Linked DNA regions of Homo sapiens: region 1 is linked to region 2. Evidence: fine-mapped QTL for protein levels in blood plasma. Region 2 holds a variant in brackets. A gene starts in the other region. All regions are shown on their forward strands.

What was found. PIP is the chance, under the fine-mapping model, that this variant and not a neighbour inherited with it causes the effect. The UK Biobank Pharma Proteomics Project read protein levels with antibody pairs (Olink). The fine-mapping took linkage between variants from a reference panel, not from the people measured, so its PIPs are less certain.
Region 1: HYAL1 starts here. The variant in region 2 is fine-mapped to the plasma level of the HYAL1 protein (UK Biobank, PIP 0.92).

The regions. Positions count from the first base shown.
Region 1 is chr3:50,302,890-50,311,203 of GRCh38, forward strand. It overlaps HYAL1 (hyaluronidase 1), which reads right to left and starts at 685. Exons shown (of 4, transcript NM_033159.4): 1 at 577-685; 2 at 1-91. The coding sequence starts at 67. RefSeq lists enhancers at 169-1,103, 921-1,090.
Region 2 is chr1:180,189,207-180,197,531 of GRCh38, forward strand. QSOX1 (quiescin sulfhydryl oxidase 1) reads left to right here. Exons shown (of 12, transcript NM_002826.5): 9 at 346-468; 10 at 1,227-1,374; 11 at 5,007-5,186; 12 at 7,056-8,325. The coding sequence ends at 7,831. Among named protein-coding and RNA genes, the nearest start is that of LHX4, 37 kb to the right of the region's middle. RefSeq lists enhancers at 3,693-4,364, 4,666-4,835, 6,734-6,903. The variant A/G (reference allele first, on the strand shown) is at 5,049.

The DNA.
Region 1 (8,314 bases), not on the chromosome of region 2:
TAAAGCCTTGGGCCATATCGAGTAAGGTCAGGAAGAGGGCGCAGATGGGAAGCAGGTGGGCTGCCATGGCACGGGACTGGTCGAGGACAACCTGGCCAGGGGAGGCAGAGCTGAGAACAGGTTGCAAAGTCTCCGATTCCCCCACTGCTCAGGGCTGGGGGGCTGAGCCCTTGCGCATTAATCCACCGCTGCTCTGGTTTCTGTTAAACATTGACCTGCAGGGCTCCAGGAGGGCAGGGGAGACGCATGGAGGGGAGCATGGCCACTGGAGGGCACATCCGAGTTGCCTCTCAGACCAGGCCTCTGCCATCTCCCACAGGACTTGCTCTAGCCTAAGCTCGCCCACCCCTGCTTCCCCATGAGCCACTGAGGCCATGACATATGTTCTGGGAAGAGTGGCTGACAGCCAGGCCCTCAGCCCCCAGGCTGACCCGACCAAGGGGGGGAGGCCTTCCTGTCTCTTCCACCAGAAATCCTGGCAGCCACTGGAGGAAGATCCAATGGCCTCAGTGACCAAGGACAGGTCAACCCAGCCCTCCTGTACACCCGCCAGTCTGCCCGCTCGTCCCTGCTGACCTTGGGGCTGAAGGGCCTTATCCTCCAAATTTCCTGACCCCAGGATGGGGGCCTAAGCAGGGCCTGGCCAGATTCCACCCCAGCTGCACCAGAGACTCCTGGAGGAAGGAGCCGCTGCTGGAAATTCTGAGCTTTTGTAGGGGGTCACCCCACCCAGGCCAGGGGCGGGCCAAGGGGCGGGCCTTGGATTAGGAGGCCAGGCCAGCCAGGCATCAGGGCTACCTCTGAATCCCTGGCAAAGGGATCTTGGTTGGGGGTGGGGCTGGGCCAACAGTGGCCCCTCCCACGCTGTCAGCACTAGGGCAGGGCTTTGTGGCCTTACCTAGGCTGGAGGAGGTGGGCAGGGGCAGACCCTGCTGGGCAGGCCTGTTTGTGACACTGGAGACCGGGTTCTTTCGTGTCTTGTGCTCAGGGAGTGTTCTTTGTCCACGTGGCTGCATCTGACATTGATGGGCCCTAGGCACTTTACTTTCGTGGATCTTTTCCTCCTTAAAAAAAATATTTTAAAATATGGCCAGGCATGCCAGGTGCGGAGGCTCACGCCTATAATCCTAGCACTTTGGGAAGCCGAGGTGGCAGATCACGAGGTCAGGAGATCGAGACCATCCCGGCTAACATGGTGAAACCCCTTCTCTACTAAAAATACAAAAAATTAGCCGGGCGTGGTGGCAGGCGCCTGTAATCCCAGCTACTCGGGAGGCTGAGGCAGGACAATCCCTTGAACCCGGGAGGCAGAGGTTGCAGTGAGCCAAGACTGCTCCACTGTGCTACTATACTCCAGCCTGGGTGACAGAGAGCGACTCCATCTCAAAAAAAAAAAAAAAAAAAAAAATATATATATATATATATATATATATATATATATATATATATGGCTATAGTCTTAGCACTTTGGGAGGCTGAGGTGGGAGAATTGCTTGAGCCCAGGAGTTCGAGACCAGCCTAGGCAATGTAGCAAGACCCCATCTCTACAAAAAAATTAAAAATTAGCTGGGCATGGTGGTATGTACCTGTAGTCCCAGCTACTTGGGACACTGAGGCAGGAGGAGTGCTTGAGCCCAGGAGGTCATGTCTGGGTTACACTATTATATATTAATTATTAATATATTTACATTTATATTCTTCTTCTGATTAAAAAAACATTTTGTGGGCCCCTGAAAGTACTGTGGCCCTAGGCCTTGGGTCTATTGTGCTTAGTGGATAAGTCATCCCTGTTGTAGGGACCTGTTTCTGAAAGGCACTGTGTTCATGAAGTCAGGGCTGTGTCATCACCCTTTGTATATGTGCTGGGTTAGTGACTGTGTCTTTGTGAAGCCCCATTTAGTGACCATCTGAGCCTCTGCACAAATTCCAGTGGCAAGTAGGTGTGAGTGTGGAACCCAGTGCCTGGGACTGGGTGTGTGTGAGCCCTGCTGTCTTGTGAGCATGAGATCCTGTGTTTGTGTGACCATGCATATGAGCTGTCAGTGAGCACATGCTTGTTCATTCATTTGTGGTTTCACTTGTTCAATATGTGAAAGGAAAATATCTTGGGCCCCTTCAAGCTGGGAACCGCTCAGGACAAATCTGCCTCCCATTCTATTCAAGTCATCCTTTTGCTTACAGACATAGATGCATATTATGATTGCCTCCATTGCCTCTTTTGGAAAGACTACCAGAAACTCAAAAGAATGCAACCATCTGTCTGTCACCTGCCTGTGACCTGGAAGCCCCCAGTGGGGGGCCGTGCTTTGAGCTGTCTCCACCTCTCTGGACAGAGCTTATGTACTTCTGTTTTTTTTTTATTTTTATTTTTTGAGACGGAGTCTCGCTCTGTCGCCCAGGCTGGAGTGCAGTGGTGCGATCTCAGCTCACTGCAAGCTCTGCCCCCCGGGTTCATGCCATTCTCCTGCCTCAGCCTCCCGAGTAGCTGGGACTACAGGCGCCCGCCACCACGCCTGGCTAATTTTTTGTATTTTTAGTAGAGACGAGGTTTCACCGTGTTAGCCAGGATGGTCTCGATCTCCTGACCTTGTGATCTGCCTGCCTCAGCTTCCCAAAGTGCTGGGATTACAGGTGTGAGCCACCGCGCCTGGCCTAATTTTTTTTTAGATGAAGTCTCACTCTGTCGCCCAGGCTGGAGTGCAATGGCATGATCTCGGCTCACTGCAACCTCTGGCTCCCGGGTTCAAGCGATTCTCCTGCCTCAGCCTCCAGAGTAGCTGGGACTACAGGCGCGTGCCACCACACCCAGCTAATTTTTATATGTTTAGTAGAGACAGGGTTTCACCATATTGGCCAGGCTGGTCTTGAACTCCTGACCTTGTGATCTGCCCACCTTGGCCTCCCAAAGTGCTGGGATTACAGGCTTGAGCCACCACGCTTGGCTAAGGTACTTCTTACGTATTGATAGATGTCTCATATCTCCCTAAAATGTATAAAACCAAGCTGTGCCCGGAACACCTTGGGCACATGTCATCAGGACTTCCTGAGGCTGTGTCTTGGATGCATCTTCAACCTCAGCAAAATAAACTTTTTAAATTAACTGAGAGCTGTCTCAGATTTTCTGGGTTCACATTTGGTAACTATGGATGGATTCTGTGTGGAGATGTCCTTGACTTTTGACTAATTGCCTATCTGTGCTTGGTACCAGCAGGAGCTAACTTTATGGCTCAAACCAATAGGACAATTTGCTGAGGTCTGGGAGCACCCCCTCCAGAGAATCCTTGATTTCTCAATTGGTTGAGATCTAAAGTTTATTTTGCTGTACAACTCTTTTTTTTTTTTTTTTTTTTTTTGGAGTTTTACTTGCTCCCAAAAGGAAAGCAAGTTTTTCTGCTTCCATGACGATGGAAGGCAGGTAACTCCTTTATGGAGTTTGAGCTCGCTTCCAACAGGGAAAATTAGTTTTTTTTTCCTGCTTCTGGGATGGTAGAGAGCAGTCTACAGCCTGAGACCCATCACTAGGTAAGAAACTGGCTTGGGATTCTGCCTTGCAATTTCCTTTAAATGACTAAAGTTAGCATTTAACAACCAGCTGGTGTTAACTTCTGCTTACACTTACAGCACTCAGAAATCATATACTTTGTGTGATCATTGTTACTTTAGCAGCATTTTGTTCTAGCTGAAATATGGTAATAAGATTAAAAAAATTTTTTTTGGCTGGGAGTGGTGGCTCACACCCGTAATCCCAACACTTTGGGAGGCCGAGGTGGGCGGGTCACCTGAGGTCGGGAGTTTGAGACCAGCTTGGCCAACATGGTGAAACCTATCTCTACTAAAAATACAAAAATTAGCCCGGCATGGTGGTGGGTGCCTGTAATCCCAGCTACTCAGGAGGCTGAGGCAGGAGAATTGCTTCAACCTGGGAGGTGGGGGTTGCAGTGAGCCGAGATCATGCTACTGTTACTCCAGCCTCAGTGACAGAGCAAGACTCCATCTCAACAACAACAACAACAACAACAAAAACACAAAAATTATCCAGGCATGGTGGCCCACACCTATAATCCCAGCTATTCAGGAGGCTGAGGCAGGAGAATCACTTAAACTTGGAAGGCGGAGGTTGCAGTGAGCTGAGATTGCGCCACTGCCCTCTAGCCTGGGTGACAGAGCAAGACTCTGCTAAAAAAAAAAAAAAATAAGCCGGGTGCAGTGGCTCACACATAATCCTAGCACTTTGGGAGACTGAGGCAGGAGGATCATTTGAGGTCAGGAGTTTGAAACCAACCTGGCCAACATGGCGAAACCCTGTTTCTACTAAAAATACAAAAATTAGCCAGGCTTAGTGGTGTGTGCCTATAATCCCAGCTACTTGGGAGGCTGAGGCAGGAGAATCGCTTGACCTGGGAGGCAGAGGTTGCAATGAGCTGAGATCATGCCACTGCACTCCAGCCTGGGTGACAGCAAGACTCAGTCTCAAGAAAAAAATAAAAAATAAAAAATAAACCAAAATAGGGCCGGACGCAGTGGCTCACGCTTGTAATCCCAGCACTTTGGGAGGCCGAGGCGGGCGGATCACAAGGTCAGGAGATCAAGACCATCCTGGCTAACATGGTGATACCCTGTCTCTACTAAAAATACAAAAAATTAAGCTGGGCGTGGTGGTGGGCGCCTGTAGTCCCAGCTACTCGGGAGGCTGAGGCAGGAGAATGGCGTGAACCCGGGAGGCGGAGCTTGCAGTGAGCGGAGATCATGCCACTGCACTCCAGCCTGGGTGACAGAGCAAGACTCCATCTGAAAAAAAAAAAAAAAAAAAAAAAACCCAAAATAAATAAAAAGGAGGGATGTTCAGAACAAATTGGAAAGTCCAACCATGTCATGAACAGTCAGTGTAAGTCACAAAAAACCCAAAAACTTTTTTTTTTTTTTTGAGACGGAGTCTCGCTCTATCACCCAGGCTGGAGTGCAGTGGCGCAATCTCGGCTCACTGCAAGCTTGCCTCCCGGGTTCACGCCATTCTCCTGCCTCAGCCTTCTGAGTAGCTGGGACTACAGGGGCCCGCCATCATGCCTGGCTAATTTTTTTGTGTTTTTAGTAGAGACAGGGTTTCACCATGTTAGCCAGGATGGTCTTGATCTCCTGACCTCGTGATCCACCTGCCTCGGCCTCCAGAAGTGCTGAGATTACAGGTGTGAGCCACCGTGCCCGGCCAAAAACCCAAAAACTTTTATATAATCAAGTTGTCGTATACTTTTTTCTTCAGGGTAGAGTCTTGCTTTGTTGCCCAGGCTGAAGTGCAGTGGTGCAATCTTGGCTCACTGCAACCTCTGCCTCCTGGGTTCAAGTGATTCTCCTGCCTCAGCCTCCCCAGTAGCTGGGTTTACAGGCATGTGCCACCACACCTGGCTAATTTTTGTATTTTTGGTAGACATGGGGTTTCAGCATATTGGCTTGGCTGGTCTCAAACTCCTCGCCTCAGGTGATCCGCCTGCCTTGGCCTCCCAAAATGCTAGGATTACAGGCGTGAGCCACCATGTCAGGCCACGTTGTCGTATTATATATTATTATTATTATTATTTTTTGAGATGGATTCTCGCTCTGTCACCCAGGCTGGAGTGCAGTGGCGCGATCTCAGCTCACTGCAAGCTCCACCTCCCAGGTTCATGCCATTCTCCTGCCTCAGCCTCCTGAGTAGCTGGGGCTACAGGCGCCCACCACCGCGCCCGGCTAATTTTTTGTATTTTTGGTAGAGACAGGGTTTCACCGTGGTCTCGATCTCCTGACCTCGTGATCTGCCCACCTTGGCCTCCCAAAGTGCTGGGATTACAGGCATGAGCCACCGTGCCTGGCCTTTTTTTTTTTTTTTAGACGAAGTCTCACTCTGTCACCCAGGCTGGAGTGCAATGGCAGGATCTCGGCTCACTGCAACCTCTGGCTCCTGGGTTCAAGCGATTCTCCTCCCCTAGCCTCCCGAGTAGCTGGGATTACAGGTGCACACCACTACACCTGGCTAATTTTTGTATTTTTAGTAGAGACAGAGTTTCAGCATGTTGGTCAGGATGGTCTTGAACTCCTGACCTCGTGATCTGCCTGCCTCGGCCTCCCAAAATGCTGGGATTACAGGCGTGAGCCACCGTGCCTGGCCAACAGCTTTTAACAATTTAGTACAGTCCTATGAACAAAATTTGGAGCATATTTGTTTCTCTACCTGATTTCTCCAGAATTTGGAAACTATTTGTGAGTATTCTTAACTTATGGCAATACAGTTATTTGCATAAGTGCCATAAGAATCTGTTTTTGCCTGGCATGGTGGCTCACTCCTGTAATCCCAGCACTTTGGGAGGCCAAGGTGGGCAAATCACCTGAGGTTGTGAGTTCGAGACCAGCCTGGCCAACATGGCAAAACCCCATCTCTACTAAAAACACAAAAATTAGCTGGGCATGGTGGCACATGCCTGTAATCCCAGCTACTCCAGAGGCTAAGGCAGTAGAATCGCTTGAACCTGGGAAGCAGAGGTGGCAGTGAGCTGAGATTGCACCATTGCACTCCAGCCTGGGCAACAGAGCCAGACTCCACCAAAAAAAAAAAAAAAAAAAAGAATCTGTTTTCATTTGTAACAGGACACAATTGGAGGAATTGATTATTTGACCAAGACTTTGACAGGAATGGTGTGCTTTCGTTTAAGGAATCAAACTTAACTTATGGAGCCAATAAAGCCCTTGGGAAAACTGGCCTCACATTTTGTGTACACAGTCCCTGTACAGGATTTCTTACCTGTGGTAAGTAAAGAATGTCACTTTCTGGGGCCAGGAGTGGTGGCTCATGCCTGTAATCCCAGCACTTTGGGAGGCCAACGCGGGAGGATCACCTGAGGTCAGGAATTCAAGACTAGCCTGATCAAAAAAAAAAGGATGTCACTTTCTGACAGGCACAGAGGCCCCAGGTTTATGTTTATCTTGGAACTTGAAAGGAGAGGAAATTCCATCCAACTCATGGGTATTTGATGGCACAAATCCATGGCTGGGCAGGGCTTTAAAAAGTCTTACCTGAGATTCCTCTTATGGGACAAAATAAATTATTCTTGCTGCACTGTATACAAATATTTAGGCCAAGTATAATAAGCAAACAAGTCATACCATGATTTGTCTTTAGTAAAATGGGAAATTGGAGAGAGAATAAAATCATGTTTCAAAACGAATGTTCACCTGTTGTTAGATTCTAGTCTTAACTGTTTTTTTGTTTGTTTGCTTCCAATTTTTATGATTTTCTACAGTTTGGAATGAATTTTTCTTGGCTACAAGTCTTCAAATTAAGTTTTCAATTTTTTTCCTTCTTTTTTTTCATTTTCCTAATTTGGAGTCACTGAAAACTAAGCTGTGTGTTTTTTTTTTTTTTTTTGAGACAGAGTCCCGCTCTGTCACTCAGGCTGGAGTGCAGTGGCAGGGTCTCAGCTCACTGAACCTCCGCCTCTCAGGTTCACGCCATTCTCCTGCCTCAGCCTCCTGAGTAGCTGGGACTACAGGCAACCACCACCACGCCCGGCTATTTTTTTTTTGTATTTTTAATAGAGATGGGGTTTCACCGTGTTAGCCAGAATGGTCTCGATCTCCTGACCTCGTGATCTGCCCGCCTCGGCCTCCCAAAGTGCTGGGATTACAGGAGTGAGCCACTGCAATCGGCCACTGTGGTTTCTTTTCTTTTTTTTTTCTTTTTTTTTTTTAATTATTATTTTTTTATTGATCATTCTTGGGTGTTTCTCGCAGAGGGGGATTTGGCAGGGTCACAGGACAATAGTGGAGGGAAGGTCAGCAGATAAACAAGTGAACAAAGGTCTCTGGTTTTCCTAGGCAGAGGACCCCACGGCCTTCCGCAGTGTTTGTGTCCCTGGGTACTTGAGATTAGGGAGTGGTGATGACTCTTAACGAGCATGCTGCCTTCAAGCGTCTGTTTAACAAAGCACATCTTGCACCGCCCTTAATCCATTTAACCCTGAGTGGACACAGCACATGTTTCAGAGAGCACAGGGTTGGGGGTAAGGTCACAGATCAACAGGATCCCAAGGCAGAAGAATTTTTCTTAGTATAGAACAAAATGAAAAGTCTCCCACGTCTACATCTTTCTACACAGACATGGCAACCATCCGATTTCTCAATCTTTTCCCCACCTTTCCCACCTTTCTAGTCCACAAAACCGCCATTGTCATCATGGCCCGTTCTCAATGAGCTGTTGGGTACACCTCCCAGACGGGGTGGTGGCCGGGCAGAGGGGCTCCTCACTTCCCAGTAGGGGCAGCCGGGCAGAGGCGCCCCTCACCTCCCG
Region 2 (8,325 bases):
TCCAGCCTTCCTCCCAGTGGTGGCACATGGTCGGGGGGTGCTGCACAGGAGCCTGAGGTCTGAGAGAGGGAGACTTCCAGGACCCCACCCCATTTAGAGCGAGCACCTTCCCTACCCTGTCTTCTAGCCTTACCAGGTGTCCCAGAGCAAAGGTAGTACAGAAGTCATATTTGTGTCTTAGTTAGAATGTTTTCCTGGTGGTTTTGGAACTTTGCACAACCTCCTCCCCACTGCCCCCCGCCCCCCGCCCCCCGCCTTCTTCTGCATAGCTTCCTACCATCTGCAGGACGGGGAACTTGGGGAATTGCTTTTCACTCTCCAGCTTCCGCTTGTTCCTCCCCACAGTATTTCCCTGGCCGGCCCTTAGTCCAGAACTTCCTGCACTCCGTGAATGAATGGCTCAAGAGGCAGAAGAGAAATAAAATTCCCTACAGTTTCTTTAAAACTGCCCTGGACGACAGGAAAGAGGTGAGTCTGGGAAGCAAATAAAGATCTCTCCATCCTCCGTATTTATGAGAGTGCAAGGGGTTAACCCTGTCATTTCTGACCTTCTTCGCCAGTTTGCACCAGGGAGTCAGTGATCTTCGTTGGGTCCTAACAATAATCAATAAATGACTATTGATTGAGCTCTCTATGCGCACATCTCATTTAATCCTCATAATGTTAGTGGAAGGTAGATATTCTCCCCATTTAGCAGATGAAGAAACAGTACTTTGAAAAGGTTAAGCAACTTGTCTGGGTTCATGGAGCCAGTAAGTGTTTGGGCTGGGATGAAAACTTGGTGAGACCCCAGAGTTTTTAACAACTACCCTGTGCTGCCTCTTAGTTTGTGGTGCTGCTCAGCATGGCCTCCCTGGCCCTCTCCAGGGCACCTTCTGGGCTCCTGCTCATGCTGCTATTTGCAAAAGTGGGTCACTGCAGCCAGCAGAGGTGTAAAACCCTGTAGACTTGTAGGGTGTCAAATCTCGAAGGGACCTCAGAGATAACCCCCTTGTGTTACAGCTGGGGAAGTTGAGGCTGGAACGGGATGCAGCTTGATCTGGGTCACAGCTTTTTAGGTCTGCTGCTGCTTCAGTGGGTGGAACTGGTGAAAGGGAAATGCCACCTTCGAGGTGATAGACTGAGGGACCTCATTTGTCTTAGGGCTGTCTCCTAGAAGCTTCTGTCTCTGCCTCTCCCATCCTTTTCCTTCTCCATATGTGCACTCACACTCATGTGTCCCTCAGGGTGCCGTTCTTGCCAAGAAGGTGAACTGGATTGGCTGCCAGGGGAGTGAGCCGCATTTCCGGGGCTTTCCCTGCTCCCTGTGGGTCCTCTTCCACTTCTTGACTGTGCAGGCAGCTCGGCAAAATGTAGACCACTCACAGGAAGCAGGTACGTCCAGGACCCGTTCACCCCACTGTGCCTCCAACCCTGCTCTGTTCGGCCCTCCAAGGGGAGAGGGGGCAGGGAAGCTCCCTTGAATTGCCCCACTGGCTCCCAGCTGCCAGAAGATGGGGAGAGTCAGCCTTGGGGCTCTGGCTGGATTGCTCTATCTGCAGGTAGCCCCACACGGCCAGAATAGAACCAATCCCAGGAGGGAGCAGACTTTAGGAATTCAACCAGTCCTGTTTTCGGCCCCGGGAGCTCTGGGGCTGAGGCTTCTCCCTGTCTTTCTCCGGGCTTATAGTTTGCTTTGCTTTCAGTCTTCATGAAAAAATTGTGATTCTATTTTTTTATACTCTTAACAAAGAAAAAAACGTGTATTTTACAGTTTACATAGCTGATACATAGCAGGTGCTTTGAGCAATTTTATTGCACTTCCCACTGAAAAACAATTTCCTGGGGGAAGTTGGGGAAACACGTTTCCCCTGCTGCCTCGGATTGTCCACAAACTGCACCACCATGTTCTCCGGCCACGCTGCCCCACACCTGCTTTTGAAGACTGAAAGGATGCGCATCCAATTCAGTCCACACTGATTGAGGAACCAGGTTTATACCAGGCTGCGGCTTGGCTTGGAGGATAGATACATGGGTGAAAAGGGCGACAGTGCCCGCTCTTGGTGGACCTCTAGTGTGAGGCAGGGGGACAGAGAGGCCTGCAGTGCATCAGGGCTAGGGCCGTGGTGGAGAGAAAGATGTGGGGTGAAGAGAGGGCAGGCTCGACGCCATTGGGAAGGGGCCCGAGGCCTTACGGGGTGAGTTGAGGGGTGATGGGTGAGTAGGGATTCCGCCAGGAGAGGAGCATCCCAGCAGAGGGAGCAGCCTGTGTGGAGCCCCGTGAATCAGAGGAACTGCCAGGCAGTGGTGTGGGAAGCCAGTGTGTATGGAGCATCTCCACCATGCCATGTGGCGCTGCAGGTGCCGGGGACACAGCAGCATATGAGACAGGTCCCTGCCCCCACAGGGCCAGTATCTGAGTGGCAGGAGACAGACACAGAGGGATGGCTTCAGCCATGATGACGAATGCTGAGGAAGACAAAGCAAAGCAGTGCCGGAGCGGGTGCTGTCTGGAGAGGGGTCTGGGAAAGGCTTCCCTGTGGAGGGCCCGGTGCTGGGACCCATGTGGAGAGGAGAAGGCAGTGTGGGACGTCTGGGAAGAGAGTCTCCCAGGCTGTGTTGGTGTCCTTGGGCTGCACTCACAAATGTCAGGCTGGGGCTCAGCCAGTAGACGTCTGTTGTCTGAGTTCTGGAGGCTGAAGTGCAAGGTGGAGGTGTCTGTGCTGGTTTCTTCGAGCCTCTCCTTGGCTGGGCGGTGGTCGTCTTCTCCTTGTGTCTCCGTGCAGTTGTCCCTCTCCCAATCCATGTCCAAATTTCCTCTTCCTGCAAGGACACCAGTCCTATTGGATTAGGGCCCACCCTAATGACCTTATTTTACCTTCATTACCTCTTTAAAGACCCTGTCTCCAAATACGGCCACATTCTGAGAGGCTGGGGATTAGGGCTTCAACATAGGAATTTGGGGGGACATAATTCAGCCCATAGCACAGGCTGGAGACCAGCAGGTGCAAAGGACAAGCCTGGTGTGTGGGCAGCACTGAAAGAAGGCTGCTGTGGCCGGAGGGAGGGAGGTGAGGCTGCAGAGACAGGCCGGGGGCGGAGGTGAGCGCTCATGGGCTCAGAGGCCTTGGCGAGGGCAGGGTTTGGAGGTTGGTGTTGGCATTTTGAGAAGCCACTGGAGAGGCTAACGGAAGTGACAGTTGGTTAACACTTTAGAAAGGTGGAGGATGGGCTACTGCAGGCAGGGGGAGGCAGGGCAGCTGAGGAGCAAGCTGCATGCTCGCCCAGCAGTGGTGGTTGGGCCTGGACTAGGGTTGTCAGTGTGCCCCTGGAGGAAGTGGTCAGATTTGGGGATATGTTAAAGGCAGAGCTGAGGGACTTACTGATAGATTGGAGGAAGGGTATGTGGGAAGCAGGACTCGGGTGGACTCCAGGGTTGTGGGGCCTGAGCCTCTGGTGGATGATGGTCCCATAAGCTGAGGAGTCAGGGGCTCGGGTTGGGATGGTGGAATCAATGGCCCGCTTTGTGTCAATAGACCTCCCAATGGAGGTGTGCACAGTTGAGTCTGGAGTTCCAGGGAGAGGTGGGGAATAGAGAGATTAGCTTTATAGTCATTAGTAGCATCAGAGCTCAAGCTGTGGGACTGGATGAGCTCCCTGGCAGGGAGGTAGAGAAGAGTGCTGAGGACTGAATCCTGAGCATCAAACCACCAGCAAAGGAGGCTGAACGGGGGAGGCCATGGTGATTTCAAGGGGGCCCCAGAGTCCAGTGTTTCAAGATAGAGGTGTAGTCACTGGGGCCAGTGCAGCTGGAGGTGGCGCAAGATGAGGACATCTCTAGCAAGGGCTGTGTCGGTGGAGTAGTGGAGGTAATGGCCTTGTTGGATTCGGCTGAAGAGAGACCAGGAGGCAAGATTCTGGAGATAATGAGCAGGAACTGGGGCATGACTGGGTTAGAGGGAACTTCTTTATGATCATCCTTTTCCCCAGTTGGAATGATCCCTTATCAGGGGATAAATGGATGACGCAGTAAAGAAAAAACACTAACGGGAGTGAAATCCTGGAGGTGAGGAGTGGGGTAACCCGAGCAGCAGCGGAGACAGAGGCTGAGCAACGCCAGGGCCGTGTGGTGAGGCCTTGTGGTGGGGAGGTGGGCACCTGTGCTGGGTGCAGAAGAACAAGCTGAGAAGGCAGAGGAGAGAGAGAGAGGCAGGTGTGGGCTGCTGCGGGTCTCACCTTGCCAGGAGTGAGGAGAGTAGGGTGCCAACGTCCTGCTGCGTGGAGGGGTAAAAGCAGGAGATTGGCTTCTAAAGGCCTGGGAGGTTTGCGGTAGGAAGGAGCGAGCTTGGAGGCAAGCACCAGCAGCCCTGGAGCCTGAGGGTGAAGGGCTTAGGAGGGGCGTGTTGGATTAGGAGTGGTGTCCTCAGCGGGGAGCCTGGTTTCAGTTAGAGCAAGAAAGTGGGGCTGGTTAACAGGTCTTTGCTGATGCCAGTCCAGAGGGTCCAGTGGGTGGGAGGGGGTGGGGGGAATGGAAGGGGAGAGCGAGGAGAGATGGAGACAGATTAGGAAGGGCATGTGCAGGCCAGGTCCAGGCCCGAGGGAGGTGACGCATGGTGGAAGCAAGTCGGACAGGCAGCATGAGTGGGCAGGGGAGGAAGGGCCAGGGGCTAGGGCGGTGGCCCTCTGGCCCCTGCTGACCTCTCTCACCATGTCACAAAGAGCCTGAGTTTCCTGCCAAGGAGTGTGGACTTTGTCCTGGGTGTGAGTGACAGGCACCCAGGTTAGTGGCAGGGAAGGGGATCCAGGTTTAGGAGTTTTGGGGGGATGGGGTCTCCTGTAAAGTGACCATGGCAGGTAGAGAAGTAGACAAGGGGACACTGGGCCTCTGCTGGCATAGGCTGGGGTGTGTGGCACCTGTGCAGGGGTGGCCACGGCAGGATGGGGGGCGGCAGGGTGGCCTGGGGAGGCAACGGCTGTGGGGCTGGCAGCCTGAAGGGCTGGTGCGTGGCATCTCCTCTGCCCTGTAGCCAAGGCCAAGGAGGTCCTCCCAGCCATCCGAGGCTACGTGC[A/G]CTACTTCTTCGGCTGCCGAGACTGCGCTAGCCACTTCGAGCAGATGGCTGCTGCCTCCATGCACCGGGTGGGGAGTCCCAACGCCGCTGTCCTCTGGCTCTGGTCTAGCCACAACAGGGTCAATGCTCGCCTTGCAGGTAAGGAAGGACCATCCCCAAGGCTGGAGTCACTTGTGGGGGACGAGGGGGTGAGGATACTTGGGAGTCTTAGGCCAAAATTTGGGGAAGGGACACTCATTGTCCCCTCAGTCACAGCCCAGGCCTGTTAACCAATGCCAGTATCATCAGCCCCATTTTTGACATGAGGAAGCCAAGGCTTTGACACTGTAAGACCCTGGTCTTCCCATGCCGTTGCTCACTTTTTCCCTGCTCTAGGGCCCCTCTCTAGCCTACTGGGGTCCCTCTCCCGCCTCCCCTGCTCCGTCTTCTGGCTGTTGGCCCCTTACTCAAACTGCTAGGGCAGAGGGAGCTGGGGTTCTCTCTCCCTGGGAAGGGTCTGATGAGAGAAGGGGCTGGAGGAGACCAGGTCGTTCCTGGAAATACCAGGCACCGGCTCCCAGGAGGGAGCCTTGCCCTCTGCGTTCCCTCATTATGGTGCTTCCTTTTCCTCATCAGGAGTCTGATGGCTCTAACAGGCAAACACATTAAACTCCAGGGAGCTGGGTCGGGAGGGAGCCATCTGTGGACAGGAGGCGGTTTGTGTGTCGGGAGGGAGCGGTGCACGTGGCTGTGACAGCCTCCCGGGGGGGGGAGACCAGGGCGGAGCCGAGGTTAAAGGAGCTGAATGGAGCAGGTGGTGGTGCAGGCGCCTGCACTTGGTCGTGGTCTCCTGGGGCCTCCTATCGAACTTTGAAAGGAAGACATGTGCCTGTCTTCTCCTTCCCCCACCCCGCCCCTGCCACCAAATGCTCCATTTGACCCTTCAGCCCCTTGACCTCGGCAGGCTCCCAGCTGCTGCTGGAGGGCCAGGAGCCTGGGCCTGTCCCTGAGAGGCCAGAAGCAGGGTGGTTCCCTCCCCTCTCTGGTGGGGTCCTTTCAGAAGAAACTCAAAATTACCAGGCACAAGCTGAGAGCCCCCTCCACAAGGCCTGATCACTATGACTCATGACTGGACCCTTGACTCTGCTTGTTGTCCCCTCCCCAAAGTAACCATTCTGACTTGCATGCCACTTGCTGTTGCTGCTCCTGCTTCCTTGTAGTCAACAACTTGTCCCCCTATTAAAACCTTTAGGAGAAGTGCTTCTACAGAAGGGATGGGCTGATGCATTCCCTGGGCAACACTGCGTGAGGGGCTGGTGGCCGTGGCTCACCCTCTGGGACTCATCCAGAGGCTGCCTAGAGGGCTGGGCCCACCTGGGGTACCAACAGCCTGCAGCCCCAGCAGCATCCTGACTCTTCCAAGTACCCCTCAGGTCTCCCCCCAACTATCCCTTGGAGCCCACCCCTACCCCAGAGGGCTGCTGCTGGGTAAAAGCAAGGATTGCCATGAGCAGCTGCCTCTTGCTTGAAAACGCATTTTCCCTTGAATTGACAAAGTAACCTATTTGTGCAGTTTGTATAATTTGGAAAATGTCAGAAAAATGCAAAAAAAGACAAACACGAGCAGACCGACCAAAGACTGCAAAACAGATCAAAATGAGTATTCTTGCCCTTTCCCATGTCTGGTACTGGGGTAAAGGCTGGTTGTAAAGTCCACATAGCAGGACAGTGGGTCTGGCCAACACCGGGAAATGACTGAGATGGCGCTCTTCACGCTTCCCTGGAAAACCACGGAGGGCCGGGGCTGAGGGGTAGGTGGATCTGCCTCCTCCTCCATGCTGCCATCTGTTGAGCTCCCACTGTGGGCTAGTGTTTGTAATCTGTATTTTCTAATTACCCATCCTCTGGAAGGGCAGTGGCGAGCCCTTTCTGCAGACAAGGAAGCTGGCGTTCTGAGTGGAGGAGTGTGGTCTGGGTTTTTGGGTGGGACTGATGTCACCACCAGCCTGTGTATGCTTCCCTCTGTAGGTGCCCCCAGCGAGGACCCCCAGTTCCCCAAGGTGCAGTGGCCACCCCGTGAACTTTGTTCTGCCTGCCACAATGAACGCCTGGATGTGCCCGTGTGGGACGTGGAAGCCACCCTCAACTTCCTCAAGGCCCACTTCTCCCCAAGCAACATCATCCTGGACTTCCCTGCAGCTGGGTCAGCTGCCCGGAGGGATGTGCAGAATGTGGCAGCCGCCCCAGAGCTGGCGATGGGAGCCCTGGAGCTGGAAAGCCGGAATTCAACTCTGGACCCTGGGAAGCCTGAGATGATGAAGTCCCCCACAAACACCACCCCACATGTGCCGGCTGAGGGACCTGAGGCAAGTCGACCCCCGAAGCTGCACCCTGGCCTCAGAGCTGCACCAGGCCAGGAGCCTCCTGAGCACATGGCAGAGCTTCAGAGGAATGAGCAGGAGCAGCCGCTTGGGCAGTGGCACTTGAGCAAGCGAGACACAGGGGCTGCATTGCTGGCTGAGTCCAGGGCTGAGAAGAACCGCCTCTGGGGCCCTTTGGAGGTCAGGCGCGTGGGCCGCAGCTCCAAGCAGCTGGTCGACATCCCTGAGGGCCAGCTGGAGGCCCGAGCTGGACGGGGCCGAGGCCAGTGGCTGCAGGTGCTGGGAGGGGGCTTCTCTTACCTGGACATCAGCCTCTGTGTGGGGCTCTATTCCCTGTCCTTCATGGGCCTGCTGGCCATGTACACCTACTTCCAGGCCAAGATAAGGGCCCTGAAGGGCCATGCTGGCCACCCTGCAGCCTGAACCACCTGGGGAGGAGGCGGGAGAGGGAGCTGCCATCTCTAGGCACCTCAAGCCCCCTGACCCCATTCCCTCCCCTCCCACCCCTTGCTCCTTGTCTGGCCTAGAAGTGTGGGAAATTCAGGAAAACGAGTTGCTCCAGTGAAGCTTCTTGGGGTTGCTAGGACAGAGAGCTCCTTTGACACAAAAGACAGGAGCAGGGTCCAGGTTCCCCTGCTGTGCAGGGAGGGCAGCCCCGGGCAGTGGGCATAGGGCAGCTCAGTCCCTGGCCTCTTAGCACCACATTCCTGTTTTTCAGCTTATTTGAAGTCCTGCCTCATTCTCACTGGAGCCTCAGTCTCTCCTGCTTGGTCTTGGCCCTCAACTGGGGCAAGTGAAGCCAGAGGAGGGTCCCCCAGCTGGGTGGGCTGGAATGGAACTCCTCACTAGCTGCTGGGGCTCCGCCCACCCTGCTCCCTTCCGGACAATGAAGAAGCCTTTGCACCCTGGGAGGAAGG